Regions from separate parts of the Homo sapiens genome. Here region 1 is linked to region 2. A link means that fine-mapping ties the variant in region 2 to the plasma level of a protein whose gene starts in the linked region. Region 2 holds a variant in brackets. A gene starts in the other region. All regions are shown on their forward strands.

Region 1 (15,143 bases), not on the chromosome of region 2:
TGCAAGGGATGCTGTCACAATAGCTGAAGATAGGGTGGCGGCACATCCTGCATGTGGGGGACTCAGATCCAGTCTTGCCTGTATCGGTGACTTGGGCTGTGATCTTGGGCAAGTCTTGTCTCTCTGGGCTTCAGTTTTTTCATCTGTACACAGGGTGAAGGTTGTTGAGGCAGATGCTTGCTATCCTGGCTCTCAAAGATGTTGAAGCCCCAGCGATGTCTAGGCAGCGGGTAGAGGTCAGCTTTGAATAGCAAAGGAGTGGGGGTTTGCAGAGTTCTGGATGCCTAGGAAGGGAGAAGGCATTAGGGTTAGGCCAGAGCTTGCAGCCAAAGAAGGCTGGCCCAGGCTGGCATAATGAGTGAGGCCAGCCCTGGCCTCTCCTCTTGGGTCCTGTGGATGGGAGAAAGACCACCCCGCCTTTGGTGAGATCACCAGTGGCTTCTGATAGAACTGCCCTCTTCCTGGGGCTGGCTTGGCTGTTGAGGGTGGGGGAGCATGGCTTTTGGCTTGGCTAAGTTTGCTGGTCACAGCAGATGTGTGGCCACTGGAACCTCTTCTCTGGCCCTAAGGGATCCTGAGCAAAAAAATGTCATCTCATCCAGGGACCCCCACCTTAGATTTCGTATCTCTGATGTTGCCTCCTGCATTTGGTAGAAGAGAGGGAGCTGAGACTTGGCATCCTAAGGGACATCCTAAACAGAAACTCCATCGAAGTACATTCTCTCAGCCTTCTCATTTGAAAGACGAGGAAACTGTGAGATAGAGATGAGAGGGGACTGGCCCAAGGACACGCAGCTAATTCCTGACTAAGCTGGGACTTCCCACTGTGGCCTCCCCATCACCCTCATTCAGTTCCTGGGTTTTAAAAGCAGGTCAATACCTCATCTGATCCTGAGAAAGGAGGGTGATATTACAGGGCTTGTCTCACTTACCCATTCCAATCCAGGACAGCCCTGGCAGCAGGAAGTTCTTCCTTGGGTTTAATGTGAATCTCTCGTGCTGTCTTCTAAGCTATTAAGATAGGAGAGGCTCTGTCTTCTATGATCTGATGTTGCTTTTGGAATGCTGGCACCTCCTTGGAAGCTTTATTTTGGAGGACAAATATATGAGCCCTTCCTTCCTCCCTCCCTCCACCCCTCCCTCCCTCCACCCCTCCCTCCCTCTTTCTTTCTTTTTTCTTTTCTTTCTTTCTTTTTCTTTTTCTTTCTTTCCTTTTTTCATTTCTTTCTTCTTTCTTTCCTTCTTTCCTCTCTTTCTTTCCTTTCTCTTTCTTTCTTTTCTTTCTTTCTTCTTTCTTTTTCTTTCTTCTTTCTTTCCTTTTTTATTTCTTTCTTCTTTCTTTCCTTCTTTCCTCTCTTTCTTTCCTTTCTCCTTCTTTCTTTCTTTCTTTCTTTCTTTCTCTCCTTCTCCTTCTTCTTTCCTCTCTCTCTTTCTCTTTCTCTCTCTGTCTTTGACAGAATGTCGCTATGTCACCCAGGCTGGAGTGCACAGTGCCATCATGGCTCACTGAACCCTTGACCTCATGGACCCAAGTAGTCCTCCTGCCTCAGCCTCCTGAGTACCTGGGACTATAGGCATGCGCCCCAATATTTGGCTAGTTTTTATTTTTTGTAGAGATGGGGGGTCTTCCTATGTTGCCTAGGCTGGTCTCTAACTCTAGGACTCAAGTGATTCTCCCACCTTGGCCTCCCAAAGTGCTGGGATTCCAGGGGTGAGCCACTGTGCTCAGCCATGAAATGCTCTTTTTTTTTTTTTTTTTTTTTTTTTTGAGACGGAGTCTTCCTCTGTCATCCAGGCTGGAGTGCAATGGGGCAATCTCTGCTCATTGCAACCTCCGTCTCCTGGGTTCTAGCAATTCTCTGCCTCAGCCTCCCAAGTAGCTGGGACCACAGGCGCCCGCCACCATGCCTGGCTAATTTTTTGTATTTTTAGTAGAGACGGGGTTTCACCATGTTGGTCAGGCTGGTCTTAAACTCCTGAATTCAGGTGATCCACCCGCCTCGGCCTCCCAAAGTGTTGGGATTACAGGCATGAGCCACCATGCCAATGCTTTTTAAATTAAAATTATTTTGTAGACATTTTCCTGTGCTGTGAAATGTTCTCTAAACATCATGTTTTCTGATGGCTACATGCTGTTTTGTTAGATCTATATGTCAAAACATCACTTCAGTAAAGTTTTTAGGGAAAAAAGATATGCCAAAATATACACAATCAGTATCCTATTATGAAACATGGAGGTTTCCAATTTTCCACTTTCATAAATAAAGCTGTGATAACCATCTTTTTGTGTACATTTTGGAGTCACATCTCTGACTGTTTTCTTAAAGTAAATTTGTCAAAGTTAGAAATGCTAGGTCAAAAGGCACAGTCATGTTTCCAGGCGTTGGATATATCTGGTCAAATTAAATTTCAGAAAGGAAGTAAGTGAGTGTACAAGAGCCTCCACCTGCCCTGCCATAGACCTCTATTGTTTCGTCTGCCCAGCGTCTCTTCCTTTGGTGGAACCATTGCCTCCTGACTGCTGTCATTCTGGTTGGTTGCCAATCAGCAGGTACTTCTCCTATCAAAGCTGAGGGCACTGGATCCAGGTTACACCCACTGCACTCTTCTCCACCCCTAACTTGCCCACGCCTTCATTAGAGTCTTGAACAGATAAGCCAGTTCTCTAAACAGAACAGTCCAAAGCTCAGATGCTGTTGCTCACAGCCAAAGATCCTTAGTGGATATTCTTACTACATACAGGATATTAAAAAAATAAGTAAATAAAATCTTTGCTAACGGAAAACAATATTTCATTTTAATTTGTCTTCCTCTTCCTCTTAATACCCATGATGGTGAGCATTTCTTCATATTCGCATACTGACTGTATCCTTTCTCTGTGAATTGCCTGTTTTTGTATTTTGCTCATTTTTATTGGGGGTCCTTTTATTTTTGAGTTTTAAGAGCTGTTTATATATTAAGAATCTATTAACCTGTCATACACAAGGGGCAGTAGTGAACAGATGTATATTGGAGTTAGGCAGACCTAGTTTTGAATCTTGGTGCCATAGGCTCTATCTGTTTGACATTAATTTTGTAAAACCCCTGTTTATTTTTGTATACCAGTAGAGATAGAGATAATCATATACGTGTTATAGGATGGTTCTGAGAACTGAATGAGATAAACTTGATAAATGCTTTGATGCTATATTGCAAATATTTCTTTCCTCATTTTTGCTTAGTACCAAAGGATTAAATTTTGGGGTAATCAATTCAATCTTTTCATTCATATTTTCTCCTTTTATTTTTATGCTAAAAAGGCTTTTTGACTCTGATGTTAGATAAATATTCACTATATTTACTTGTTATTATTTTGTGATTTTTGAAAGACATGATAATTCTTTAATCTAGCTGAAGTTTATCTTGGTATAGAGCGTGAAATAGGAAATATCTTTTTTTTGTAAGTAATTAAGCAATTGTCCTATGATCATTTAGTGAATAATTTAAACTTTTGCCATTGATTAAGAATTAAAACTTTATCAATAACTTAAGTCTTATTGTAACAGGGGCTGTTTATGGGTTTTCATTTTTTTTCTTTTCCTTTTTTTTTTTTGAGATGGAGTCTCGCTCTGTCACCCAGGTTGGAGTGCAGTGGCATGATCTTGACTCACTGCAACCTCCACCTCTCGGGTTCAAGCAATTCTCCTGCCTCAGCCTCCTGAGTAGCTGGGATTACAGGCACATGCCACTACACCCAGCTAATTTTTGTATTTTTAGTAGAGACAGGGTTTCACCATGTTGGTCAAGCTCCTCTCAATCTCCTGACCTTGTGATCTGCCCGCTTCAGCCTCACAAAGTGCTGGGATTACAGACGTGAGCCACCGTGCCTTGCCCGTTCTTTTCTTTTGACTGTTTATTCTTATGCCAGCACAGACAAGCATGTATTGTGGGTTCAGTTCCTGACCACTGAAATAAAGAGAATATTGCAATAATATTTGGTTAGTTTTTATTTTTTGTAGAGATGCGGGGGGCGGGGGCCTTCCTATGTTGCCCAGGCTGGTCTCTAACTCCTGGACTCAAGTGATTCTCCCACCTTGGCCTCCCAAAATGCTGGGATTAAAGTGAGCCATGTGGATTTTTTGGTTTCCCAGTGTATCTAAAAGTTATGTTTGCACTATAGTGTAGTCTATTAAGTGCAAAATAGCATTTGTCTAAAATAAGTATGTACCTTAATTTAAAAATACTTTATTGCTAAAATATGCTAATAATCATGTAAGCCTTCAGTGAGTCATCATCATCTTTCTGCTGGCGGAGGGTCTTACCTTGATGTTGAGGCTGCTGAATGATCAGGGTAGTGGTTTCTGAAGGATAGGTTGACTGTGGCAATTTTAAAAAATCAGACAACTATGAAGTTTGCTGCATCCATGGACTCTTCCTTTTTTTCAACTTTCATTTTAGAATTAGGGGGTACATGTGCAGGTGTGATACAAAGGTATATTGTGAAAGATTTCTCTGTCACATATTGTGAAATACTATCAAACATGCAATGCTGTTTGATAATATTTTATACACTGTACATCCTCTTTCAAAATCAGAGTCATGGCATGGTGCAGTGGCTCATGCCTATAATCCCAGAGCTTTGGGAAGCCAAGGCAGGAGTATCACTTGAGCCCAAGAGTTTGAGACCAGCCTGGGCAATACAGTGAGGCTCTACCTTTACAAAAAATTAAAAAATTAGCTGGATGGTGGTGCATGCCTATATCCTACCCCCTCGGAAGGCTGAGGTAAGAGGATTGTTTGAGCTCAAGAGTTCAAGGTTACAGTAAGCTGTGATCATGCCACTGCACTCCAGTCTGGGCAACAGAGCAAGACCCTGTCTCTGAAAACAACAACAACAACAAACAGTTGGAATCAATTCTCTCAAACCCTGCTGTGTTATCGACTAAGTTTACATAATACTTTAAATTCTTGGTTTTGTCATTTCAGCAATGTTCACAGCATCTTTACTAGGGGTAGATTCTATCTCTCAAAACTACTTTCTTTGCCCATCCGTAAGAGGCAACACCTCATCCATTCAAGTTTTATCATAAGATTGTAGCAATTCAGTCACATCTTCAGGCTCCACTTTAATTCTAGTTCTTTTGCTATTTCCACCACATCTGCAGTGACGACTTCCTCAACTGAAGTCTTGAACCCCTCAAAGTCATTCATGAGGGTTGAAATCAACTTCTTCCATACTCCTATTCATGTTGATATTTTGACCTACTCCCATGAATCATGAATGTTCTTAATAGCAGTTAGACTGTGAGCCCTTTCCAGAAGGTTTTCAGTTTACTTTGCCCAGATCCATCAGAAGAATCACCATCTGTGGCAGCTATGAGATGTATTTCTTAAATAATGTATAGCCTTATGAGATGTATTTCTTAAATAATAAAACTTGAAAGTTAAAACTACTCCTTGATTTGCAGAATAGATGTTGTGTTAGCAGGCATGAAAATATTAATTGTCTTGTACATCTCTGTCAGAGCTCTTGGGCTATCAAATGCATTGTCAATAAGTAGAAATATTACAAAAGGAAAGTAGAAATTGTTTTTTTTTGTGAGCAGTAGGTCTTAACGGTGGGCTTAAAATATTCAGTAAACTATGCCGTAAATGGATGTGCTGTCATCCAGGCTGTGTTGTTCCACTTATAGAGCACAGGCAGAATAGATTTAGCATAATTCCTAAAGGCTCTAGGATTTTTGGAATAGTAAATGAGCATTGGCTTTAACTTAAAGTCACCAAATACACTAGTCCCTAATAAGAGAGTCAGCCTGTCCTTTGAAGCTTTGAAGCCAAGCATTGACTTCTCTCTAGCTATGAAATTCCTAAATGGCCTCTTCTTTCGATAAAAGACTGTTTCATCTACATTGAAAATCTGTTGTGTAGCGTAGCCACCTTCCTCAATTATCTTGTGTAGATCTTCTGGAGAACTTGCTGCAGCTTCTCCATCAGCACTTGCTGCTTTACTTTACACTTTTATGTTATGGAGATGGCTTCTTTCCTTAAATCTTGTGAACCGACCTCTGCTATCTTCAAACTTTTCTTACGCAGCTTCCTCACCTCTCAGCTTTCATAGAATTGAAAAAAGTTAGGGCCTTGCTCTGGATTAGGCTTTGGCTAAGGGGATGCTGTGGCTGTTTTGATTTTTTTATCCAAACCACTAACATTTTCTCCATATTAACAATAAGTCTGTTTCACTTACCATTTGTGTGTTTGCTGGAGTAGCTGTTTTAATTGCCTTCAATAACTTTTCCTTTGCATTCATAACTTGGCTAACTGGTAAAAGAGGCCTAGCTTTGGACCTTTCTTGGTTTTCAAACATGCCTTCCTCACTAAGGTTAATCATTTCTAGCTTTTTTTGATTTAAAGTGAGAGACATGACTCTTCTTTTCACTTAAACACTTAAAGGCCACTGTAAGATGATTAATTGGCCTCATTTCAGCATTGTTGTGTTCCAAGGGAGAGAAACAGAGAATGGCCGGTTGGGGGAGAAATCAGAACATATGTGACATTTATCGATCAAATTCACTGTCTTATGTGGGCACAGTTTATGGCACCCTGAGACAATTAGGAAAGTATCATCAAAGATCACTGATCACAGACCAACATAACAGATGTAATGATAATGAAAAAAATTGAAATATTGTGAATATTACCAAAATGTGACACAAAGACACATAGTGAGCACATGCTATAGGAAACATGCAGCCAATGTACTTGCTTGGTGCAGGGTTGCCACAAACCTTCAATTTGTAAAAAATGCAATGACTGCAAAGCACAATAAAACAAGGTATGCTTGTATTGTGGCTGTAATTGTTGTAGCTCCATAATATGTTTTAGTGACTGGTGGTATCCATTACCCTTCATTAGTCTACATTTTCAATTTTCCAGGTTACAAGTATTTTATTGTTCCATGTGAACCTAATGATCATTTTGTTAAGTTGCAAAAACAAACCCTTGTTTTTATCATAAAATGTTTTCAAAAATGCACAAAAGAACAGCAAATACTTTTATGGAGCCTACATACCCATCATCCAGATTCAACAATGAACCATTTTACAAGAATTCCTTCATGCATATCCCCACCCCTTTTTTGGCTGAAGTATTTTAAAGTAAATCCAACCGATCTTATACTTTACCTTTAAATACTTCAGTGTGCATCTCTAAAAACTAAGGACACTTTCTCACATAATGACAATCCTACTGTTACACCTAAGAAAATTAACTGCAGTTTCTTAACATCATCTAATATTCTATTTGCATCTTGTTTTTCTTATTGTCTCAAAAGTGACTCTATGGTTGTTGGTGCACATATTGCATTGGCTGTAATGTATCTGAAGTTTCTTTTAATCTAGAACAATCTCTCCAACTCTTTTTTATTCTCCTTTCCTCCCTCCTTCTTCTTCTTCATGCTATTGACTTGTTGAACAAAACAGACAAATTGTTCTTTAGAATGTCCCATGTTGCTTCCCTGTGATGTCTTTCATCTTCTTTGTCCTTCACATTTCCCATAGATGAATGCTAGCTGTAGAGGCTTGGTGAGGTTCATGCTCAACTGTCTTGGCAGGAGCCCTTCTTGAATGATGCTGTGTGTTTTGTGTTGCATCACCTCAGGAGGAACGGAGGTCCGCTTTACCCATTTTTAGCATTGTGGAGACAGATTAATGTGTTTTCGGTGTGTACCTGAATCCTCAAGTTGTAAACTTGTGTTTTCCCTCTTACAAACTGTAAATATACCACAGGGTGATGAAATGGCACCCTGTAAATATTCAGAAGCCATGGATAATCATTGCCAGAATCAATTATTTCATTAGGGTTTGCAAAACCCAGTGGGTTTTAATTTTAATTATATTTCAGGTATAAATTATGCTGACCAAGGTGAACACTTTGAGGAGGCTTCCTGCTTGGGGAAGAGCATATCTTTTAAAAAACATTTATTTATTTATTCTGTAGAAAAGTTTAGTCTATTTATCCAGATCTTTTAAAATGTCATTTAATAAAGTTTTAGGGTTTCCTTTCAGAAAATTTCTGTACATCTCTAGATTTATTTGTAGGTATTTTATATTTTATTCACTTTGATAATGTTGAATAGGATTTTTTTTTTTTACTATTAGGTTGTCTTAGCAGGTTTGGGCTGCTATAACAAATTACCATAGACTGGGTGGATTATAAACAGCAAATATTTATTTCTTACAGTTCTAGAGGCTGGGAAGTCCAAGATCAAGGCACCAGCAGATTCAGCATCTGGTGAGGACCAGTTTCTCTTCTCTGACAGTGCCTTCTAGCTGTGATCACACATTGCAGAAGGGCAAGGCAGCTCTTTGGGGTCTCTTATAAGGGCACTGGTTTCATTCATGAGGGGTCCATTCATGAGCATTAGGGAGGAGCACCAGGTAGAGAGGGAAAGTACCGTCCCTGGGGTCTGGACTTTTTGTGACTCTTCCCTCTTTTTGGGGAAAAGGACTTCAAGCTCAGGTTTTCTTTGGTGGGGTTGGGTATTGCTTCTTCCATATTCCAAGTCTCAGGACCCTCAGGGGCAGGTGCCAAGTGAGAGTGACCCCCAGAGGTAGAAAGGACCCAGCATCATTTCTGAGGACACCTGGTAGAGGAGGAGCCTGGACACTTGGCCTCCCATCCTGGCTCAGGGTATGGCCTTGACACATCTTCATCCTTGTTTCCTCCTTTGGACAATGGAGATGTTCAGACTAGGTGGTCTCTGAGGGCCCTGCCAGCTTTAGCCATCCCTCCCCACACCAGCTAAAGGGACTAATTCCTCCGAACTTTCATGGGTCAGATAGAGGCAGGGAAGGGACAGCCCCAGCCCTGGGAGGCAGGTCTCCTTACCTTCTTCCAGTTCCTTCACAGGAATCACACACTTGAAGCCACAGTGCAGGTAACAACACTTCCTTTCCCCCAGACAGTCCTGGTCTGTGTGACACTGGGGAGGATCGGACTTGAAGCAGCGTACGTTGTCAGCTGGGCAAACCCCTGCTTTCTCTATACCTAGTGGAGGAAGCCACAAGGTGATATGAGAACTCCAGCCCCAGAGGGCCCCTCAGGACCTCTCCCCAGCCCAGCCCCACCCAGCTCCACCATGTCTGCTCACCCTCTTTAACTCCTTCCACAGCCACCAGGGTCACAAGAACGAGAGACACCATGAGGACCAAGAAGCTGCTGGACCCCATGTTGCCAGGCAGGTGCTTGGCTGGGAGCTGGGCTGAGCCTGGCTTTATAGTGTTCCTGCTGGGCATGCCAGTGGGTGGAGCTGAAGGCTCAAAATGGCAAGGGAGGCTGCACTTCCCAGCTCTATTTGGAAATGGCCCCTTCTGAGGAGGGACTTGGGGCTTTCCCTAAGGCTCTGCACTGGAATAGATGAAGAAATCCAAGAGCGACCCTCGTTCTTCACACGAGGAGAAGAAATGGACACGTGATTGACCATTAGGCGCCACCAGGGCCAAACTATCTTATGGAAGGAGGAAAAGAAGCACAGAAAGGGCATGAAATTACTCAAGTTCACACACGAGGCAGTGGCAGGGCCAGACTTCCTCAACTCCACCGTGTTCTCTATCAGTCCCTCTTCATGCCTGATTCACCTGGGACCAAAATCTTCCCTCCTTCCTGTGCTGCCCCGGACTTGTTCTCAGTTCTCACCTCACCCCAAGGAAGAATCTGAATGGCAGTGCTTAAAATGTCTGTCCTGAACATTCACTCTCAGCCTTGCGCTCCAGCACCGTGTGCTCCTGCCCCCCGCCAATCTCATGTGGCCTGGAGGAAAGCAGATTTTGGACCTGTCACCAGCTGTGTGACTTTGAAAGCAGCTTCACCTTTCTAAGCCTCCGTTTCCTCATTCATACAATGAGCATAATAATTATACTGTATCATCTTCATAGGATTTGTTTTCCCTCCTCTGCCCCTGCATCCCCCAAATTCCTGGATTTGGAAGAAGACATGGACGTGTGTGCGTGTGTGTGTGTGTGTGTGTGTGTGTGTGTGTGTGACCAGGCTTTTGGGGTCCTTTCTTTGAATGAGTACTAAAGGGAGGAAAATCCTTCCTGTTGGAAAAGTTGCAGATATAAGCCCAGAAACTCCAGAAATTTGGTCCTGGCCCTGGTGAGAGAGAAATTCTGAGAAGATAAATCTAAGATGCTGATAAAAAGAGATGAGAGATGGACAGGGAGTAATTTAGAGGATATCTAGTCCTTCACTAAACTTTTTCCTGAGATCAGCCCCACTCATACCCAGGGTTATGTTACCACCCAATACATTCACCTTTCTGCCTAAGCTGGTCTGAATTGGATTTCTGTCATTTACTAACAGGACCCCTGAGTAATGCAAAGATTTGGGTTTGGGGTGTTCCACATCCTGAAGTGTGGAAGGGACTGAGTTGGGGTTAAGTGGAGGCAGGGAGGATACCTCCATTCCTGGAAGTGAGCCTACTCCTTATTAGGTGGTGAATCTTTGGTTACAATCTCACCAGTCATATCACTGGACTCAGATCATTTGGATACCAGGGATGGAATCTGGGAAGTTCATAAACAAATACTAGAATGTTGGAATGTATTGGCTATTTCCTCCTCCACCTTTTTATTATGAACTTTTTAAACATACAGAAAAATTGAAATAACAGAACAATGATACTTGTATACCTACAACTGGATTTAACAATTATTAATAGTTTGGGATATTTTAGAATACCTATAGCTACATTTGTTGAAATATTTGAAATGAAATTGAATACATTATGTTCCTATTTCCTAAATACATCAGCATGCAAATTCTAAGAATAAGGATATTCTTCAATATAATCACAAAGCCATTATCATATCTAAGATAATTAATAGTTTCTGCATGTCATCTCATAGCCAGTTCATATTTGTTTCTCCGGTTCTCCCCAAAATGTCATTTGTAATTGACTGTTGATGATACTTCTTTAAAAAAAGTATTGTAAAATAAATCCTACATATGAAAGAATGTAATCAACATTCTATACCTTTTGAAAAAGAATAATAAACACCTATGAACCTATCAATTTAGAATAGGACATTACCATCCCTACTTCAGAGGTAACCACTATCTTGAACTTTCTGTTAATCATCCTCATGTTTTCCTTTAAAGTTTTGCTCTCTTGCTATGGCTTGCTTAGTGATACGTGTTGTTTAATTTCGTGTAAGCGTAATTATGGCCTAAGTATTCTTTTGTATTTTGCATGCTTTGCTCAACACCGTGTTTTTTTAAAAAATTGTGGTAAGAAATATATACTATAAGACATGACCTCTTAACATATTTTTAAGTGCATACTAACAGTATTGTTAATTGTGGGCACAGTGTCATACAGTAGGTCTCTAGAACTTTTTCATCTTGCATGACTGAAACCCACTGAATAGCAACTCCCTATTCCCCCCACCCCCAGACCCTTGGAACCACCATTCTGTTTTCTGCTTCTATAAGTGACTACTTTAGACACTTCATAAAAGTGGAATTATGCCATATTTGTCCTTTTGTGACTGGCTTATTTTGCTTAGCATAATGTCCTTGAGGTTCACCCATGTTGTAGCATGAGATAGACTTTTCTTCTTTTTTATGGCTGAATAATATTCCATGGTATGCATATATATGTACATGTATATAATCTTTTTCCTTCCCTCATTTATCTGTCAATGGGTCAATGCACATTTAGGTTTCCATTTCTTGGCTATTGTGAATATTGCAGCAATGAACTTGCAGGTGCAAATATCTCTTTGGGATCCTGATTTAAATTCTTTTGGATAAATACCCAGAAGGGGGATTGCTGGATCATGTGATAGCTCTATTTTTAATTTTTTGAAGAACTTCCATACTGTTTTCCGTAGTGGCTATACTCCTTTAAATTCTCACTGACAGTGCACAAGGGTTCCAAATTCTCCACATTCTCACCGGTACTTGTTTTCTTTTTCTTTTCTTTTTAAAATAAAAGCCATCCTAACAGGTATGAGGTGATCTTATGGTTTGATTTTCATTTTCCTGATGATTAGACATGTTGAGTATCTTTTCACATACCTGTTGGCCATTTGTATATCTTCTTTGGAGAAATGTCTGTTTAAGTCTTATTCACTTTTAATTGGGTCTTTATATTTATATGTGTGTGTATATATATATATATATGCATATGTACACACACATATATATAATGAAAAAGAAAAGAAATAAGTATTAGAATGGGAGACGAGAAAAGCCATTGTTTGCAAATGATGCAATAATAAAAACACAAAAGAAACTACAGATACATCATGAGTTAGACAATTTTTCAAGATTAGCTGACACAAAAATCAATATATAAAAGTCAGCTGCTTTCTATACACTAGAAATATTGGTTAGAAAAATGTAATACGTTAAAAGCAATAACATGTAAAATATTTAGTAATAAAGGCAACCTGTGAGATGGGAAAAATATTTGCAAACTACCTACCAGATAAGGGGTTAATTTTCAAAATATATAAAGAACTGCAACTCAATAGCAAAAATATGTTTACATATATATATACATATATACATAGCAAAAATATGTTTATATATGTATATATATAAATACATTTAGGCTTACATTTAGGTTTCCTAGAAACCTAGACTGTCTAGGAAGCAAGCCCCATAAGGAACTTCTCATATTCATATTATAAGAAGGTAAAATTGCAGGGGACAATGTTCCTGTTTTGTAGTAGTAAACTACCTTCTCAAAAGGTGGTTATTTTGTCCCCAGGGGACTTTGGCAATGTCTGGAGACATATTTGATTGTCACAACTGGGACAGATGTGCTTCTCACATCCAGTGTCTAGAGGCTGAGGTTGCTGCTAAATATCTAACAATGCACAAGACAGCTTTTCACAACAAACAATGATCTGTCTCCAAGTGCCAATAGTATTGATGTTGAGAAACGCTGCTGTCCTGCCTCACTGACTAATAGCTGTGCATGGCCTCAGAACACCTCAATGTAGGCTGAAGCGAGTAATGATGGGAGTGTCTGCTGGGAGTATCCCATGCTTAGGAGTGCTGATCCTTGGCTCACTGGTTTCACCCAGTAAAGGCATTCCTTAGCCCATGCCATGTGACCTTGTGGAATTCATCCCATGTTCTGCTGAATCAGGTTAATAAAGTTCCCTTTTAATTCTAGTTAGCTAAGAGTTTTTCTCATGAAAGGATGTTGAATTTTTATCAAATGCCTTTTCTTCATCAATTGAAATAAATATATGGATTGTCTCTTCAATCTGTTATTTTGTGAATTACATTAACCAGATTTCACATTCATTGTCTTTTTTGGGCATCATTTATTTATGTGCTTCAAGAAAGTGGAAAGCCTTGAACCAAAATGGCGGAGTCTAAGACAGGGAATGAAAGGGAAGATATATTTCTCATAAACGTGGAATATATATTCCTGAAAATCATTAGGTTACAGAGTTTTGCTCACTACAAATAATAGGGCTTCTGGAAAAAATAGAGTTGAAGTAGAACATTCAATATTTGTGCAGTCTCATAAGTAATACATCAAACAAACAGAACCCACACCCAATAAAAACATGACCACAGTGTTAAACATCTTCAGTTCCTAATAAAGAAATTATGTAGTAAATGTAGCACTTTACTTTGACAAAAGATGGGGAGTTTGCTTGGTAAGTGGGTATGGTGAAATACTGTGGCTTTTGAGGTATGTACAAAAGGTGGAATGAAGGACATCATCATTCTTGGGACTAAATGTTGTTATACTGGAGGGTCATTGTCGTCAATCTTTTACTTCTGTACTGGCTTAAAACAGCAATCCGCTTCGTTGATTTGCCAGTTCCTCCCTTTTGTAAGGAAGCTGTATAACTCTAAATGAAACTGGATAACTGCAAAGTTCTATGCTGATGCTCTTGACATTAAAATCTTGATCTTTGGCTGGGCGTGGTGGCTCACGCCTGTACTCCCAGAACTTTGGGAGGCCAAGCCGGGCGGATCACTTGAGGTCAGGAGTTCAAGACAAGCCAGCCAACATGGTGAAACACTGTCTCCACTGAAAATACAAAAATTAGCTGGGTGTGGTAGTACATGCCTGTAATCCCAGCTACTTGGGAGGCTGAGGCATGAGAATCATTTGAATCCAGGAGGCAGAGGTTGCAGCGAGCTGAGATCACACCACTGCACTCCAGCCTGGACAACAGAGCGAGACTTTGTCTCAAAAAAACAAAAAACAAAACAAAACAAAAAAACTTGACCTTTAATCCACTACAATTGTTTATCAATATCACTTGAAGCTGATAGTAACTGATGTGTTAGGCTCACTAGCGGTCTCATCTCTGACGGAGTGCAACATTTAGCTTATTGCTGTGGTGAATAGCATATGCTCTCATTTATTCAAAAATATTTTATTATTTCAAACTTCTCAGTATTTAAGACATTTCTTTTATTTATTTATTTTTACATTTTTATTAATTTATTTTTTTAGATGGAGTCTCCCTTTGTCACCCAGGCTGGAGTGCAGTGGTGCAATCTCTGCTCACTGCAACCTCTGCTTCCTGGGTTCAAGAGATTCTCCTGCCTCAAGCTCCCAAGTAGCTGGGGCTACAAGCTGGCTAACTTTTGTATTTTTAGTAGAGATGGGGTTTCACCATCTTGGCTAGTCTGCTCTCAAACTCCTGATCTCAGGTGATCCACCCCCGTCAGCCTCCCAAAGTGCTGGGAATACAGGCATGAGCCACAATGCCTGGCCTTCAGGCATTTCTTTTAAAATCATGTTTCAGATTCTTGTTTCCAGGACATTGAACACAGTATTAAATACTTCTATCAAGAAGAGGATAGAACTCAGGATAACAGCACATCACGCACTTGGTAGGGCAATGACTATAGGTAAACTGAGATAAGAGGGAGGAGATGAAGTGTTTGTTATTTTGTGTGTCACTCAAGAGATACCATGTTCAATATTTTTGCATTCGATTTGTTTTATATGACAGGACAAGGCATAGTCACCTTATGAAAAACTGTATTAACCCAATTTTACATGTTAGTGATTTAATTCCTTATTTATCTACCATGTATGAACATATTCTGCTTGTTAAAGCACTTGCTTCAGCAGGAGAGACTCGTGGGTGTGTGTGTGTGTGTGTGTGTCTGTGTGT
Region 2 (15,143 bases):
AGGCTGGGGATTCTGGCCTCCAGATCTTGGGGCTGGGGGTGGTCGAGCAGAGGGCCTCAAGCTGTATTGGGGTCACCTCGCCTCTTTGGGAGGGTCGGAGGAAGAGGAGAGCTGAGAACACAGGTCTCCCTGTGGTCAGGCCTGCAGGCTCCCTGGTGACCTAGATACTCACCACAGCCCAACCCGGGCTCCGCGGCTTGTTTCTGAACATCCTCTTCTGCTCTCTCTTTCCTGCCTTTTTACTCCCCCCGCCACCCCTCCCAGGTGTAGGGGCACAGCCCCTCGCCCCGCCTGCCCCTTTGCACCCCTGCGTGCTTCCTTTTGCTTTGTTATTTTGGGCACTGAAAAGTGCTGACGGGCTCCTTCTGGCTCCTCATCACCTCATGCCCCCCCAGCTCCACCCTAGGCTCCTTCTGTGGTGGTGGAGGTGTGCAGGGAGACTGGTGAGGAGGTGGTGGGTGAGGAGGGTGGATAAGGCACCAGGAACACCAGCCCTCCCCCACGACCACCCTCTGGTTGTTCTCAGGCCAATTCTGTTTCCATTCCTGGCTATAGTCCTGTGTCCAAGTATGGGAATGGGGGATTAGAAAAGGAGATAGAGCTAGAACTACAACAACAGGGTAGCAGGGGAAGGTGCCAGAGCTGCATGGGAGCTGGGCCAGAGGGCAGCAGAGTGAGGAGAATTCGTTCCAAGTAAGAAGAGATGAAGAGGTATGGGACCTTGGAAAGAGGATGTTTGTTCTAGCAAAGCCTAAAGTTGGGGACTCCAAAGAACTTTGATGGGGGTGACCCATCCATCCCTGGAGGGGAGGAGACAAGGGGTTGTAACGGGGAGGAATGGAGAGGAGACCAGAGGATGGGCCGTCTTGCAGGTTAAGCCTTGTCTAGCTCAGCAGGCCAGGCTGCCCCTCTGGAGACACCAGGAAAACCCCAGGGGGCTGTCGACTTGGCCTCACCATCTCGGGACATGCCCAGCGCCAGGCATTTCTGCAGGCGGCAGTGCTGGCATCGGTTTCGGCTGGTGCGGTCGATGGGGCAGTTCTGCTGACGGGTGCAGGAGTAGGCCGCGTTACAGCGCTGGCTCCGGCGGAAGAAGCCCTGGGGAAAGCAGGTGGAGGGCAAGACTGCTTATCCTGGTCAGGCCCAGCTCACTCACAAAGGCCTCCAGCCCACAAGCTCTGGCAGCTTTTCTACATCCCACGACCTGTCAGTTTTCTCTCTCCTCCATCTATTTGTGTAATTGCAATTTATCCTGTAGTCATTTCCCCAGCTTAAGACAGGGCCCTGCCAGTGTTGAGGGCCCTGCAGGAAGGCGCTACTCAGGCATTTTCCTGGCTGCCCAGGAGATCATCCCTGGAGTCAGAACAAAGGCCATTAACCCCCTTGTTTATCTCTAAGGAGACACTGTGTGTGTGTGTGTGTGTGCGCGCGCGCGCGCTTGTGTATGCACACGCACACATGCATGCATACACATGCCTATGACTCACCTTGCACCCCTCACAGGTGATAACCCCGTAGTGGATCCCAGACGACTTGTCCCCACAGATTTTGCAAGGGATCACTTCAATTTGTGCTGGAAGAGAGAAAGAGAAGTAGGTCAGCCCAGGAGGCTTTTCTGCATTCAACCACCATGTACCTGGGCTGCAGATACAGGTACCTGGTGCTTCCACTACTTCTCCAACCAGCTCCAGCTTGCTGTTTCCCTCTTGCAAAATGGAAGGGGAAGTGAAATGCCAAATGCTTCTCAGCAAAGGGTGTGAGGAAGCTGTGTTTGTTTCACAGAGGAGGGGAGTGTGGAGGGGTGGCCGGGAGTTGTATCAGTGCTATGGAGGCAGAGAAAGCAGCTGCAGAGGGGCCACCTGCTCAGCCCTTCGAGTTGAAAAGCTCCAGTTGCCTCCCTCCCGCCTTGGGACATAGGACTCCTCACGGCCTCACAACACCTGCTTCCCGCCGAAGGGGCTTCCTCTGTGCCTCCCTCCCTCGCTGGGGCTCAGCTCCCATGGGCAAAGTGTAGGGTATAGCAGGAAGATGTGGTACACAAGGGGTGGGGGATAGGCAGAGATGCCAGTCCTTCCCAGCCAGACAGTGAAGGCTCAGGGAGGTGCTATACAGAGACAGGGTGAGGGGGTGGCAGGGAGGAACCCAGGAAACGGGGGCTCAACACCCCAGCTCTGCTGGATGCCTGAGAGCCTAGGGAAAGAATTAGCCAGGGCTCTTAGGCTCTTGGCCCCAGAGCAGAGAGAGGGTGGCTTTGTGTACATCCGTGTGTCTGAGTGTGAACACTTATGTTTGTACAAAGGCATCTGTATCCATTTGTGTGAACATGAATCATCAATGTTAAAAATGGCTGAGACTAGAGACCATCTCATTCAACCTCTTCATTTACCGATGAAGGACTAAGCCAGATGAGGCAAAGCGGTTGGGCCAGGGTCATAGGCTAGTTTGCCTGAGAGCTGGATCTACATCCCAGTTCCCCTGAGCTTTCCATTATGCTGTTCTGTGTACCTGTCTTTTCGGGTACACATTTCAGTGGGCATGTTTGAAGGTGTGCTTGTGGGTGTGCATATGCAAGAAAAGTATGTGTCATTTGTGAGCCTACGACATATCTGGTTGCTCCTGCGTCCACACGTGCATATTTGTATGTTAGTGTCTGCTCATGGGGCACTAGGACCCCGGGTTCTCTCTCCCACTGAACTCACTGTAACCTGTACCTGCTTCCCTACCCCTGTGGTTTGCTGCTGGCCCTAAGCTCATCTCTGCTTTGCCCTGTTCCTGTCAATGCCCACGACTCTCTGCTGAGCTTCATGGGACCACAGGAGGCCTTCTCCCAGCTCTTCCTTGAAAGGTAGCTGGGCAAAGCTTGGGATCCCTGGTTACTGTAGGTGTTTTTAGCATTTCCCAGAGCACATGGGTCTCTTTTCCACCATCACTGACCTGCTGCCTCCCCTCTGAGTGGGGAGCCCTGGGGCGGGACAGGCCAGAAAAGTGAAGAGAAGGGCCAAAGCCCCTTTTAATCTATGACGTGTCTCCCACCAAAGGGGCAAAAGAAGTGGCAGCCTCTCTGGAGGGCGAATGCACATTGCTGTGATCTCACCTCCAGTCCCTGGCCTGGACACTGGTCACATGTAGGGCCTGTTGATGTGAAGTGGGCAGGGAGACCATGGCTTGCCCGCCATTCCCCAAAATATTATTTCCATCATTCTTAAACCATCATCCCTCAGGCCAGACTTGAGGTGAGTCAGAGGCAGTAGCTGACCCTGACGGGGACAGGGCACATGGGTATCTGAAATCCCTTCATTAGCACTCAATTCCTCACCCAACCCCCAGCCACACGTGCCTGCCCAGCAGCAAGCTTCCAGTGCTCACACTGTAAGCTGTGGTCCCCCCAGGACCAGGCGGTAAGTGAGTTTTCCAGGTTCTTTCCAGTAAATTAAGAGCAGATTTTAATACATGGAGGGGAAGAGAGAATAAGAGGGCACTGGGTGTCTGGAACAGGGGCAGAAAACGTTGGGGCCCCCATACTTCTAGTCACTTAGATTCTCCCTCTAGACCTACGTTTTCTTGTCAGCAAGATCAGGATAAAAGTATTATTGCCTGTCCATGGGGTGATTGTAGGTAACAGAGAGTAATGAAATGATATCACCAATGGAAAGCACTGTGTATTCAAGTTACTCCTGAGCAGAGGTCAGGCTGAGAAGACCAGTGGGCCTGGCAAGGCTGAGAGGAGCACTCGGGCCCTGTGGACTCTGTTCTTGCCCAACACCTCCCCCTCCAACACTGTGGCATCTCTCTTTTCAGTGGCCTAAGACCAGAGATGGGAGAAACCAACGTGGGCCACCCAAAAAAGTAAGCGGGAGGGAGATTAGGCCAAGCCGCAGTGGGAACTCGGGCTCTGGCCCAGCAGTCAACCACAGGCCTCCCTGCCTCTTCCCTTCTCCAAGAGCCACATCCGCGTGCGTGTGTGTGCTGACCACATGGTGACCCCAGACACATCTCCCTGCCCCATGCTTGACCCACTGCTTCTCCTGGCCCTAGGAACCTCACAACAGTGTCACCAAGACCTTGACCTTCTCATAGGAAGATGCGGCCAGTCAAGGACCCCCTTCGCAAATACCCATGTTTGGGCGACACCAAAGCCT[T/C]GGACTCCAGCCACCTGGTCAGCCCATCCTCCATCCTCCCAGTCCAAGACAGAAGTACCCAGTGAGACAGACACACAAGGCCAAAGACTCTGAGCTAGAATGTCAGACCCCCTAGCCTCACTGAGCTGGAGAGACCAAGAGGTTTGGGTCCAGGAAAAACAGAGACATAGATCTAGGGATGGAGAGACGGCTGCGGAAACACTGAAACACAGAAAATCCACGCTTGTATCCTGGCCTTTGCCCAACCCATGGCCCCCTCAGCACTTCAGGCCCTCTAGTCCTGCTCCCCCCTCCTTCCCCTGCCACCTGCACTCCCTTCAATGCCATCCACCCAAACCTCAGAAAGAAAGTACCAGTGCTGTGTACATGAGGGTGTGTGTTACTTGTAGAGAAGGGGTGGGGGAGAACGGGAAGGGGGCTGGTAGACTTGGGGGTTGGTGAGAGGAGCTGAAAACACCTCTGATGATAACTCACCTTCAAAAGCTACCCCTGGGAGACACGTCCCTGAAGCAGCAGGTGGTGGGAACTCAGATTGGGGAGAAGGAGCTGAGTAATCACAGGATTACTCAAACTGTTGCCCTGGAGCCAGGCCTGCCAGGAACTTACCATCTAAGGGCCTGCCAGTGCCAGGAACTAGAGCCAAGCAAAGGTCAGGAACCTCGAACCAGCCCCTGCACCACTGCTCCCATGGCAGCCCTAACTCTACCCTCGCCTGCTGTCTTGGAAAGATCTTTGCATCTCACCTGCAGCTCTCTCACTGTAGCTCTCTCCTGAGAGAGAGCTTTCTCCAAAAGAAAACTCCAATTCCACATCTTCCAAAAGGAGAGACAAATGCCCAAATGCACCCGCCAGCTCCTTAAGTCATCTAATGACTGAATGACTATGGCTTTCTGCATCTCAAACAAGATTACCTGGGGATCTGAGGTGGGACTCAAGATTCTGCACTTTGGTCAGCTCTTAGTTGGTGCCTAAGCTTACTGGTCTTCAGCTTATACTTTGAGTAGCAAGAACTTAGTCCCTATTCCTGCCTTTTTGCCAGGCTGCTCCTTCCAGGGAGTGGGGCTGGGGTTGGCGATCTTTTCCTGAGCTCATTCTTGCATCTTTTCTGCCATCCAGTGTGACCTCTAAGACTTCATTCTGAGACAATACTAGAAAAAGAAACTGAATCTCCTCTGAATTGCTTTAGAGACTGAAGTACCCCCAGGAGCATCCTAGTAGCTCCTCCTATGAGGGGAAATACGGTAGAGGCAAAGTCCTCCATCCTCCTCTAATCGAGCCTCTCACAGCTGTGAGATTCAATGATAGTGCTTTGAGTACTTCCAGAGCCTGGCCCTGTGCCAGCTTAGGAAGCCAACCCTGGGCCCTGTCCAGGTGCCCTATGCCACAGAGAGGAAGTGGTAGGAGCAGGGGAGGGGCTGCAACCCAGGGGGATCTCTCCTCTCAAACCCCAGAACCACCACCCCCCCACCATCATGGTAGAGAATGGGTTCACACAGAGAAACCCCGGGGTCCTCATCTCCTCCTGGTGCCTCGTCAATCTAGAGCTGGGCCTTTTCCTCTCCTCTTTCTCTCTCCTTTTTCTCCAGTGGATACTGATTAAGGAGAAAGGATAATGATAGACATAAGCATTGGCTGAATTCTTACTCTGTGCCAGGCTTTACATGCATTTTCATTCAATGATCACAACCACCCTGTGAAATAGGCCCTGCTAGTATCATCCTCATCTTACAGATGAGAAAACTGAGGCCTAGAGAGAATAAACAGCTTGACTAAGGTCACACAGCCAGAAGTGGCAGATCTGGCATTTGAACCTAGATCTCTGTAATTCTGCAGCCAGTGCCCTCAAGCCTTAAGCTATATACTTTATGAGGATAAGACGCCCAAATGCACACCGGAGACCTGGGTAGAGGACATGGTTATTTGGCTGTAGGGGTAAAAGTGTGAGGTGATTGTGGTGGTCTAGGAACAGAATTCACAGAGGAAACCCACAGAACTAAAGCCAGGACTCCTGTTTGTATAAAGATCCCAAGAGATATTATTCCCTCTGTCCCAACTCTTCCTCTGAGGTCCCAGCCTCCTCCTGCCCTTACCCCTTTCTCTAAGGCCAAGTGGGATGACTTATATATCAACAACAGGGTTCCCGGGGACTCCTCAGGAACACCACAGCCCCTTTAGGGTATAGACTAGGTTTCCATACATCTTGGTATGCCTCCCTTTGCAGAATGAATGAATGAGTGAGAAAGAGGAATGCATCTCTTTCCTTAGCTTGAGCTCCTCCTCTCCCCACAGCCAGAACTCTCTGTCTCGATCCCCACCGAGACCACAGCTCCGGTCAGGGGTCACTTGCACACCCCAACCTGTCACCAGCCTCCCTCCTTTCTCAGCTCTCAGTTCCCCCAGCTTCTGCAAAGCTGGAAACCAAGGTGGTGGGTGCCACCACAGGGGAGCAGGAGCGGGAGGGCTGGGTGGGGGCTGGGGGAGAAGTGGTTCTACCTGGCGAACACTACCCCCAGCCCAGGCCAGGGCCCTCACCGCAGCTCCTGGTGAGAATTTTCTGCTGAAACACCCAGATCCTGGGGCTGAGAAAATAGTGAAGCTAAAACTCAGGTGGGCGAGGGAGAGTCTGGGGTTTTGAAAAGCCATGAATGACAGCCAGCCAGCCACCCGAAACCCCCTCCTGGTGCCTCCGCCACCCCCACAGTCTGGGACTGGAGAAAGGCGAGTGAAAACAACCAGTGAATGGGGGAGGGGATGAATCACTAGGAGGAAGCTCTGGCGAGTGGGAGCCCAGACGTCACCATCAGCACCTTCCCTGCCTTCAGGGCCATCTGTCCCTCATCCCAGAGCACCTTCACTGCTCCAGGAGGGTAGTGGACCCAGAAAGACCTTGGCTCTGGCCCTGAGGCCCTGCCTTGTTACTGTCCCTCCCCCGAAATAGACATCTCCATCCTTTTTGAGCCTCAGAGCCCCAGGGAAGGGGCTGCACTGCAGCAGCAGGCGTGGAGGTGAGACTTCAGAAAGGACTAGCTATATGGGAACAGGAGCGCGGGCCTTGGGCTGCCCGCCTGGGAGAGACCTTAGCCCTTGGAAAGTCCTGTTCCCTGTTAGTTTGAGTCAGCAGCACAGCGGCAGGGGATGGGGAGGAGCCCTTGGTAGGGACCGAATATTTTCATTGTGCTGGGACAAGCTGAGTCTTTTCAGAGTCTAGCACCTTGGGCTCGGTGGTTTGGTATTTCTGTTAGGAATGGGAAGACGGGGAAAGAGAAGGGTGCTGGAGTGATGAAAGGAAGGAAGAAGCCCTTCACGGAGTCCTAAGATGGCCCTGGGCTCTCAGGGTGATATCTGTGTACCCTGGGGACTTGGAGTCCTTTCTGGCCCACTGTTCCTCATGATCATGACCAAACCTAAGAAAGATCAGCTCATAGACAGTGACCTCACACCCCTCGGCCTCCCACCTCCCCATCCAGACCAAATGCCAGGGCCTGAGTGCCTATTGGCGCCACGCTGGCCATGCCCTTAGGGGAAGATGTCTGGGCTACCCTCCGTCTGGCTGGCTGGGAGTCTCTTTGGCGTACAGACACATTATCTCCACTTGACAGCAGCAGGTCGGATGGCAGGGTGCTGGTGCCATCCTTGTCAGAGCCACCCTACTTCCCTCTTACCGCTTGCCTAGACCCTGTGTCTCCCTGTCTTCCCTTTACTGCCAGTTATCTTTTCTCTCCGCCTCTCCCTGTGTCTATGTGCCTTGTGATCTTCTGCATTCCAGCTCTGTTTCTGGGCTTCACACCTTCATGTTTGTTTGTTTGTTTAAGAGACAGGGTCTCGCTCTGTCACCTAAGCTAGGGTGCTGTGACATTGATCATAGCTCACTGCAGCCTTGAACTCCTGGGCTCAAACGATCCTCCTGCCTCAGTCTCCTGAGTAGCTGGGACTACAGGTACACGCCACCATGCCCAGCGAATTAAAAAAAACTTTTTTTGTAGGGACAGCGGCTCACTTTGTTGCCCAGGCTGGTCTCAAACTCCTGGCCTCAAGCCTCAGCCTCCTGAAGTGGGATTATAGGCATGAGCCACCACGCCCGGCTGCACCTCCATGCGTTTGGCTCTATTGGTGTTTCTCCAACCACACCTCCAGCTGGACATTACTCTCTCCCTAGGTGTTCCAGAAACTCGCCCTCTGAGTTGGGCCTCTGCATCTCTCCTTATTTCTTGATTTGTTTCTGCTCCTTTTGTCGGGCCCTTGGTCTCTGGGTGTGTCACAGTCCCAAGCCCCATGTGCTTTGACTTTTGCCATCGGCGGTTGGAGGGGCTGGTGGTGGTTGGCACTCATTGGGGTCAGATAACTTGGGGCTATGAGATACCTGTAAATGTCCAAGTGAGAAGGACCAGTGGCACTGACCCCCTCGTTGGAGGAGGCCCTCTCTCCTACTTCCCCGCCTGGGTGGGGCTGTGTGTGTGTGGTGGGGGTGGGAATAATGGAGAGCTGGCCAAGTGTCTCCCTCAGCCCCTCCTGGGGACTCCTGCCCCGCTGCTGGGCTAGAAGCACACCTAGTCATTTCATCCCAGGGTTGATTTGCTCATTAGGGGCCATCTCTGGGAAGACCAGTCTGCCAGCGTTTGCTGCTAATAGAGAGAAGCTAGAAGGGAAACGGAAGCTCCAAGGGGCCCTTTCCTCTGTGTAGAAGCTGTTGGCTCTTCTCTCCAGCCCTCCTTATCCACCCCAGCTCATATGCCTGCACTGTGGCCTCAGTCCCTGTCACAGAAGTGGAATTCTTTTCTTTCCTTGGTTTCCCTTCCTTCTAACCTCTGGGAGAGCTGAGTCTCCATCATCACCCTTGGGGATGCCTGCCTTAGGGCACTGGGCTCTCTCTTGGCCCTGGGCCTTTGGAATGGGAGACTCTCCATAGTTGGTTTTGTTGTTCTATCTTAAAATTCAGCTCCCTTGTTTTGCGGATGGTAGACCAGGGCCCAGTGACTTGGCTTGTCTAAGTCTATATGGCTAGCCAGTGATAGGCGGCACAAGTGCCTGGTCTTACACTGTCAGTCCAGGGGTCTTTCCAGGACTCAATACGGCCTCCCTTCTGTGGCTTGTGGGAAGACCCCAGGTTGAAGCTGGGGCTGCTTCAGGCCTCAGCCACAGGGGCATGGGGCTTCCCTTTTCCTCCTTCACCTTGTGCTCTGAGAGCTTCTCTGGCTTCCCTGGCTTCCCTTCACAACAAATACAGGGGACTTCCTGAGGTTGCCCACCCTTGCTCTGCTGGAAGGCACAGGAACCCCAGACATCTGCCCACCAACTGTTGGCCCAGGGCTCCAAGCCAGGAAAAGGGTGAGGCCGAGGTCTTTCCAATCCCATCTCCATTGCCTTGCTTCCCCGGTCAAATGGGTGACTGACCCTGGAGAACCACACACACACATACACACACACCCCACACACACACGCACACACACACATGCACACACACGCAGGCATGTGCCCGGGTGCACCCTGACTGGATTCCACATAGTCCTCATGTCCCTGGATTGGGCAGAAAGCCTGGTGGCTTTGAGGCCTGGACGCGGGGATTCTGTGCCCTGCTGCCTGCCAACCTCAGTTGACTCTCGCTGTCCTGTTGCTTCAGAGCACAGCAACTGCTCTGGCCTCCTTTTACTCACAAGCAGGCTGGAGGCACAGAGGGAAACACCGTAACAAGGGAAACACTGTAACAGGAGAGTGCGTTCAGGGCCCCTAGTAATTACCAGCCCCCATCAGATACCAGCTGTGTAACATTGGGCCAAGTACGCGGCCTCCTTGGCTCTCAGTCTTTTTGTAAAATTAAGGGCCTGGATACCTCAGATACTTTTGGAGGTTCTTTTTGGAACTCAGGAATTCCTCAACAGTCCTCTTACCATTGCTGCTGTCAGGGAGCCGCCTGGCCAGCAGGACTCCCCAGCTGCTCCACCCATCTCCCAACAGATCTTGACCTTGACCAGGACGCACCCTGCTTTGCTCAGATTTGCTCACACTGTTCCCAAGACATCCTCCTTTCCAGAGGGGTGACGACAGGGTCCAGGCTCCCCCGCCCCCAGGTGGCCCCATTCACTTACTTCTCATGACTGAGCCTTGGCTCTGCCGGCCTTGGCTCCCTGTCCTTCTCAGCAGGGGGTGGTCCAGGAGTGGGGTGCAGCTGGCGGCAGAGGCGGGGCGAGGCCCTCTCAGCAGCGCCTCAGCCTGAAGCTCTGCACCTAGCTCTCTCCCCCAGTGCTTCTGGACTGGGGGGTTTAAGCTCTGCACCACACAGGTGGCCAAGTGACAACCCCCCACCCCACCCCCAAGGGGTGCAGTGAGTAGGATGACAGGCGCCCCACGTGGCCAATCTGGGCCTGGGGCAGGGTGTGAGGGGAGGGGCAGCCAATCGTAGGGGGCGTTGGAAAATTCCAAAACCACATGCGACAGCCACACGCGGTAAAAGCTGTTTCCACCCGCCAGGGTAGTTCTGGCTGGGGAGCCAGAATGGAGCTCACACGAGCCTGAAGCCAAATTTCTACTCCTCCTACCCCCGAGGACCTTCCAAGCCTGACCCTCTTTGCCAGGTGACTTCAGGGACAGGGATGTTTTCAGAGGTAAGTCACAGGATGTCTGCCTGGGGTGGTGGCATGTGCCACCTGACACCCTGTGGACTGCCAACAGCCATACCCAGTGTGGTGCAGCCTGGGGGGCTGTCCCACCACTCCCATGCCCACGCTCCTCCCTGCAGACACCACATATATCTTGCGCTAGGGAATACATGGAAATGATAGAAGCAGTAATAATCACCAGGCAAATACCCACAATCCACAGAAGGAAACCAGAAATTTCCTTAGGAGCCAAACTGCTGAAATTGGAGTGTAGATAATGATCATCATCACCATCATCATACTCATAATCATAATAATAGTGCTTACTATTATGTGTCAGAAATGGTTCTCGATGTTTTATGTGGATAATCTAATCCTCACAAAATACTTTATGTGGGCCGGGGGCAGTGGCTCACGCCTGTAATCCCAGCACTTTGGGAGCCCAAGGTGGGTGGATCACCTGAGGTTAGGAGTTCGAGACCGGCCTGGCCAACATGGTGAAACCCCATCTCTACTAAAAATACAAAAATTAGCCAGGCATGGTGGCGAGCACCTGTAGTCCCAGCTACTCAGGGGGCTGAGGCAGGAGAATCGCTTGAACCCGGGAGGCGGAGTTTGCAGTGAGCTGAGATAATGCCACTGCACTACAGCCTGAGCAACTGAGTAAGACTCTGTCTCAAAAAGAAAAAATAAAAAAACTTTATGAAGTAGCTACCATTATCCTCATTTCGAGGAGGAAAGTGAGACACAGAGAGGTTAAGTAACTTGCCCAAGGTTACACAGCTAGTAAGTGGCAGAGTCAGGATTCAAGCCCAGGCAGACTGGCTTCGGATCCCACTTGAAGGATGGGAGGGTTTCTCTGGTTCAAGTCTGCTTTTGAGGGTGTCTCAGCCTGGGAGGTCCCTCGGTATGTGAGTCTCTCTGGAGTGTTTTTTGGCCTGGGGGAGGGGGGTCCTTCTCAGGGGCCAAACAATTCCAGAGACCTTCTCAGCCTCTTAGGTGCTTTGTGGGGTACATTGGCTTTGAGAGTCCCTCTTCAGGGCCCCTCAGTATTCAGGCTCCCTCTTGGTCTGGGGAGTTCCCCCGGGTTCCCCATCTTGGACCCCCATCTTGGGGTTGTCTCAATTCAGGAGCCAATTTTCAGAGTCTCTCGGCCTGGGGGAGGCCTTAATGTCTCCTGGATTCTGTGGGGCAAACTCCTGAGAGGTGTCTGATCTTGCTGGGACTCCAGACCCTCTCATCCAGGCACAGGCCTTTCCTTGCCTTCCTGGGCCTTCCTGGGGCTTCAGGAGCTGGGCCGTGGAGTGGGGGAGAGGCTGTCAGCCTGGATCCTCAGGACAACACTCTTGGGGTGGGGACACGAGGACTGGTGGGATGGGAAAGGGATAAGGAGGTATAGTCCTGGCTGAGGTTTCTGAGGTCAGGGGTTAAGGGTAGGAATAGGGTTTGACCTCTCCCAGTTCCTGCTGCTCCGAAAGTCCCCCTACTCCCCCCACCCACATAAGGTCCGTGACCCCCCTCCCCCAGCTCACCCGCGTCACTCCCTGACCCGCTTTCCTCCCGGGGCCCTGCTCAGCATTTCCGTGGGGCCCTGTGGCTAGGGGCAGGCGAGACACTGATCAGGATTATGCTGAGCAAAGCAACCCCCACCCAGGAGGAGGTAGCATCCTGGATGGCCCTCAGCCCTGGGCTGCCCAGCTCATGGAGAAGGGCAATGCTTTGCTCTCTGAGATGTCTCTACTTGGAACAGGGAGGCTCTAGACAATTTTGGCATTGGGCGAGATGGCAGTGAGCTCTCAGGAGGAACTGGCAAGGCAGTCAAGGGACGGCTATGGAGAAATGGTGTGGCCACTCCTACCCTGGAGGGATCCTCTCGATTCAGGGACCCATGCTCACAGAAGGGCACGCATGGCCCTGATGGGCATAGCTTTGGGACTGTGTGCATTCTCTGGGGGACTAGCCTTTGCCACAAACTAGGAGAGGAGAGCTGATGTGCTGAGTGGTCCCTAGAGAGGATTCTTATTCACTAGCGTCCACTGGGAAGTCCTCTCTGAGCTCTAGTGCCCTTCTTACCTGCTGTAGTCTGGCTTTCAGGGCCCCAGGACACAGAGTGCCCCTGTCCATTCTGTTTCCTACAGAGATAAAGCTCTCCTGCTCTCTAGTCCTGCACAGGCTGGCTCCAGGCTTGTTCACACCTCAGGATGTGTTAACCACAGAGATGAACACCAAACCTGGCTCAGGACCACAGAGCTTGGTGCAGGCTGGGCACAGTGGCCCATGCCTGTAATCTCAGCACTTTGGGAGGCCGAGAGGGGTGGATCACAAGGTCAAGAGTCTGAGACCAGCCTGACCAACATGGTGAAACCCCGTCTCTACTAAAAATACAAAAATTAGCCAGGCGTGGTGGTGGGTGCCTGTAGTCCCAGCTACTCGAGAGGCTGAGGCAGGAGAATCGCTTGAACCTGGGAGGTGGAGGTTGCAGTGAGCCGAGATTGTGCCATCGTACTCCCGCCCAGGCGACAGTGTGAGACTCTGTCTCAAAAAAAAAAAAAAAAAGCCTGGTGCAGGCTCCCTGTCTCCCTTGGCAGCAGCGCTGAGTTCCTGAGTTCCTGAGGCCACCCCGCCTCCGCACACCCCCCTACCTCTATCTCCTTCCTTCCCCGGCCTGGCAGTCGGCCCCACCCCCTCCCATCTCCCTGCCTCTGTCCAGCATTTCTCCTCGCCTTTTTTCACAAGGCGGTTCCCTTTTCCTTTGTTCTCTCCTGGTTTCTTTACAGTGTTTCCTTTCATGCTTCAGGCTTCTTCCTCATCTCCTCCCACTGCCCTGATCTGTGGTTTCCTCGCACCTCCCCTTGCTTTCCTGTTGCCTGCCATCTCTTCCTGACTCCTCCACCTCTGTCCAACCTCAGTCCCCCCACAGATCACTTGCTGAATTATTCTCCATCTCATTATGCCCCAGCCATTTTCTTGCCCCGGACCCCCTACTCACAGGTGTGGGTCTTCTTTGCAGCCAGCAGCTCTGTAAAGACAAGAGAGGGGGTTGACGTCAAAGGTTGAAGATCATGAGGGGCTGAGACACTTTCCCCACTCCTAGGATCCCACTGCCGCACTCCTTCCCTCAGAGCCTGGCGTCTGAAGGGCAGGCAGGCCACCCCCTGCAGTGCCCCTCTCTCCTCCTCTGCCCTTGGGCCACACTGGCCCTCTTCCAGGTACCCAGAAGTGTCAGGCTCCTCACTGCCTCTGGGACTCCCCCAAGCTGCTCCTTTGCCTAGAATGCCTGTCCCTCCTGTACCCCTTAATCTAGCCAACTTCTCTTTCTCCCTCAGGTCTCTGATTATGTTTCTTCCTTGGAGAAGCCACACACACCCCCTTCCCCTGCCCTTGTGCTGACACATTTAGCTCCTTGCATTTTATTTCCTGGCACTCACCATGTCACCAACTGTCACCTAACTGCTGTAATTGTGTCATTGTCTATGAAATGGGTCTTTCCTGCCAAATTGTAAAGCCCTGTGAAGGCAGGGACTGTGTTGGTCTTATTTACTTTGTAATTTCATTGGAGGTGCACAAGAAATATCCTACAGCCAGAGTTAAATCTCTGTGGGACTGAAATCTCTTGGTTGCTTATCTATGCCTGAAAACACCAGGGCTTCAGAGATGTGGGGGTTGGGAGTAGGGGGAGAGGATGTTTGGAGGAAGAGGAGGGGAGAGTTGCAAATACAGACCCCTCTCTGGCTTCCACGGGCCAGGCTTCCCTGGCCTACCAGCCTGAAGAGGAAGGCCTCCCTTCTCTGCTGCTGCTGCGTGGCCGGGTCTGGGTGGAGATTGGGCAGTAGGGAGCATGAGTGGGTCGATGGGGGTCACATGGATACTCGGACCTCCAGGGGGAGCAGCCGTTGAGGGGAGGGCCTTAGCTGGAGCATGGTTGGTGGGTGGGGGGGTGTCACCCATTCATGCAGTTAACATCTATGAAACACCTAGCCAGGGAGCCCCTGGAAAGAGGATTCCCCTGCCAGACCTTGGCCCATTTCCTACATCCACATAGCAGCTCATCACAGAACACATGGCCAGTCTTTTGTCTCAGAAAGCCCTTCAACCATGCCCTATACCCCCTATAGCTTCCCTAACCTCTGACTCTATTCTGTTATTTTTTTCCTTCTGCTGTTCAGTCTTGACACCTGACATACACACACACACACACACACACACACACACACACACACACAGTGCCCTTCTGCCCGGGAGATGCTCCCCACTGGCAGGCCGTGGTCACTAGGCTGTGTGGAGGCGAGTGGCCTGATGGCCTGGGCTCTGCTGGGGTGAGGGAGGAGAAAAGACTGCCCCGAGGTGGCAAGGCCCCACCCAGCCCCGCCCACCTCCCCTTGCTCCTGCCTGGCCCCACCCAGCTTCCTCC

Which allele goes with the higher level. Alleles are on the strand shown, and positions count from the first base shown. The strength of an association depends on the size of the effect and on how common the allele is.
For the plasma level of the protein whose gene starts at base 9,224 in region 1, allele T in region 2 goes with a lower level than allele C (moderate association).

Evidence for each region. PIP is the posterior inclusion probability: the model's chance that the variant is causal. The UK Biobank Pharma Proteomics Project read protein levels with antibody pairs (Olink). The fine-mapping took linkage between variants from a reference panel, not from the people measured, so its PIPs are less certain.
Region 1: it holds the start of WFDC12, and the variant in region 2 is fine-mapped to the plasma level of the WFDC12 protein (UK Biobank, PIP above 0.99).

Annotation. Positions count from the first base shown.
Region 1 is chr20:45,115,242-45,130,384 of GRCh38, forward strand. WFDC12 (WAP four-disulfide core domain 12) reads right to left here and starts at 9,224. Exons shown (of 3, transcript NM_080869.2): 1 at 9,128-9,224; 2 at 8,866-9,024; 3 at 8,184-8,702. The coding sequence starts at 9,206. The coding sequence ends at 8,605. It also overlaps a transcript of WFDC5 not described here. RefSeq lists an enhancer at 1-370.
Region 2 is chr1:151,815,708-151,830,850 of GRCh38, forward strand. RORC (RAR related orphan receptor C) reads right to left here. Exons shown (of 11, transcript NM_005060.4): 2 at 13,722-13,751; 3 at 1,488-1,573; 4 at 957-1,098. Among named protein-coding and RNA genes, the nearest start is that of RORC, 8.5 kb to the right of the region's middle. RefSeq lists enhancers at 6,376-6,877, 6,878-7,377, 9,147-10,082, 13,344-14,029, 14,716-15,143. The variant T/C (reference allele first, on the strand shown) is at 4,140.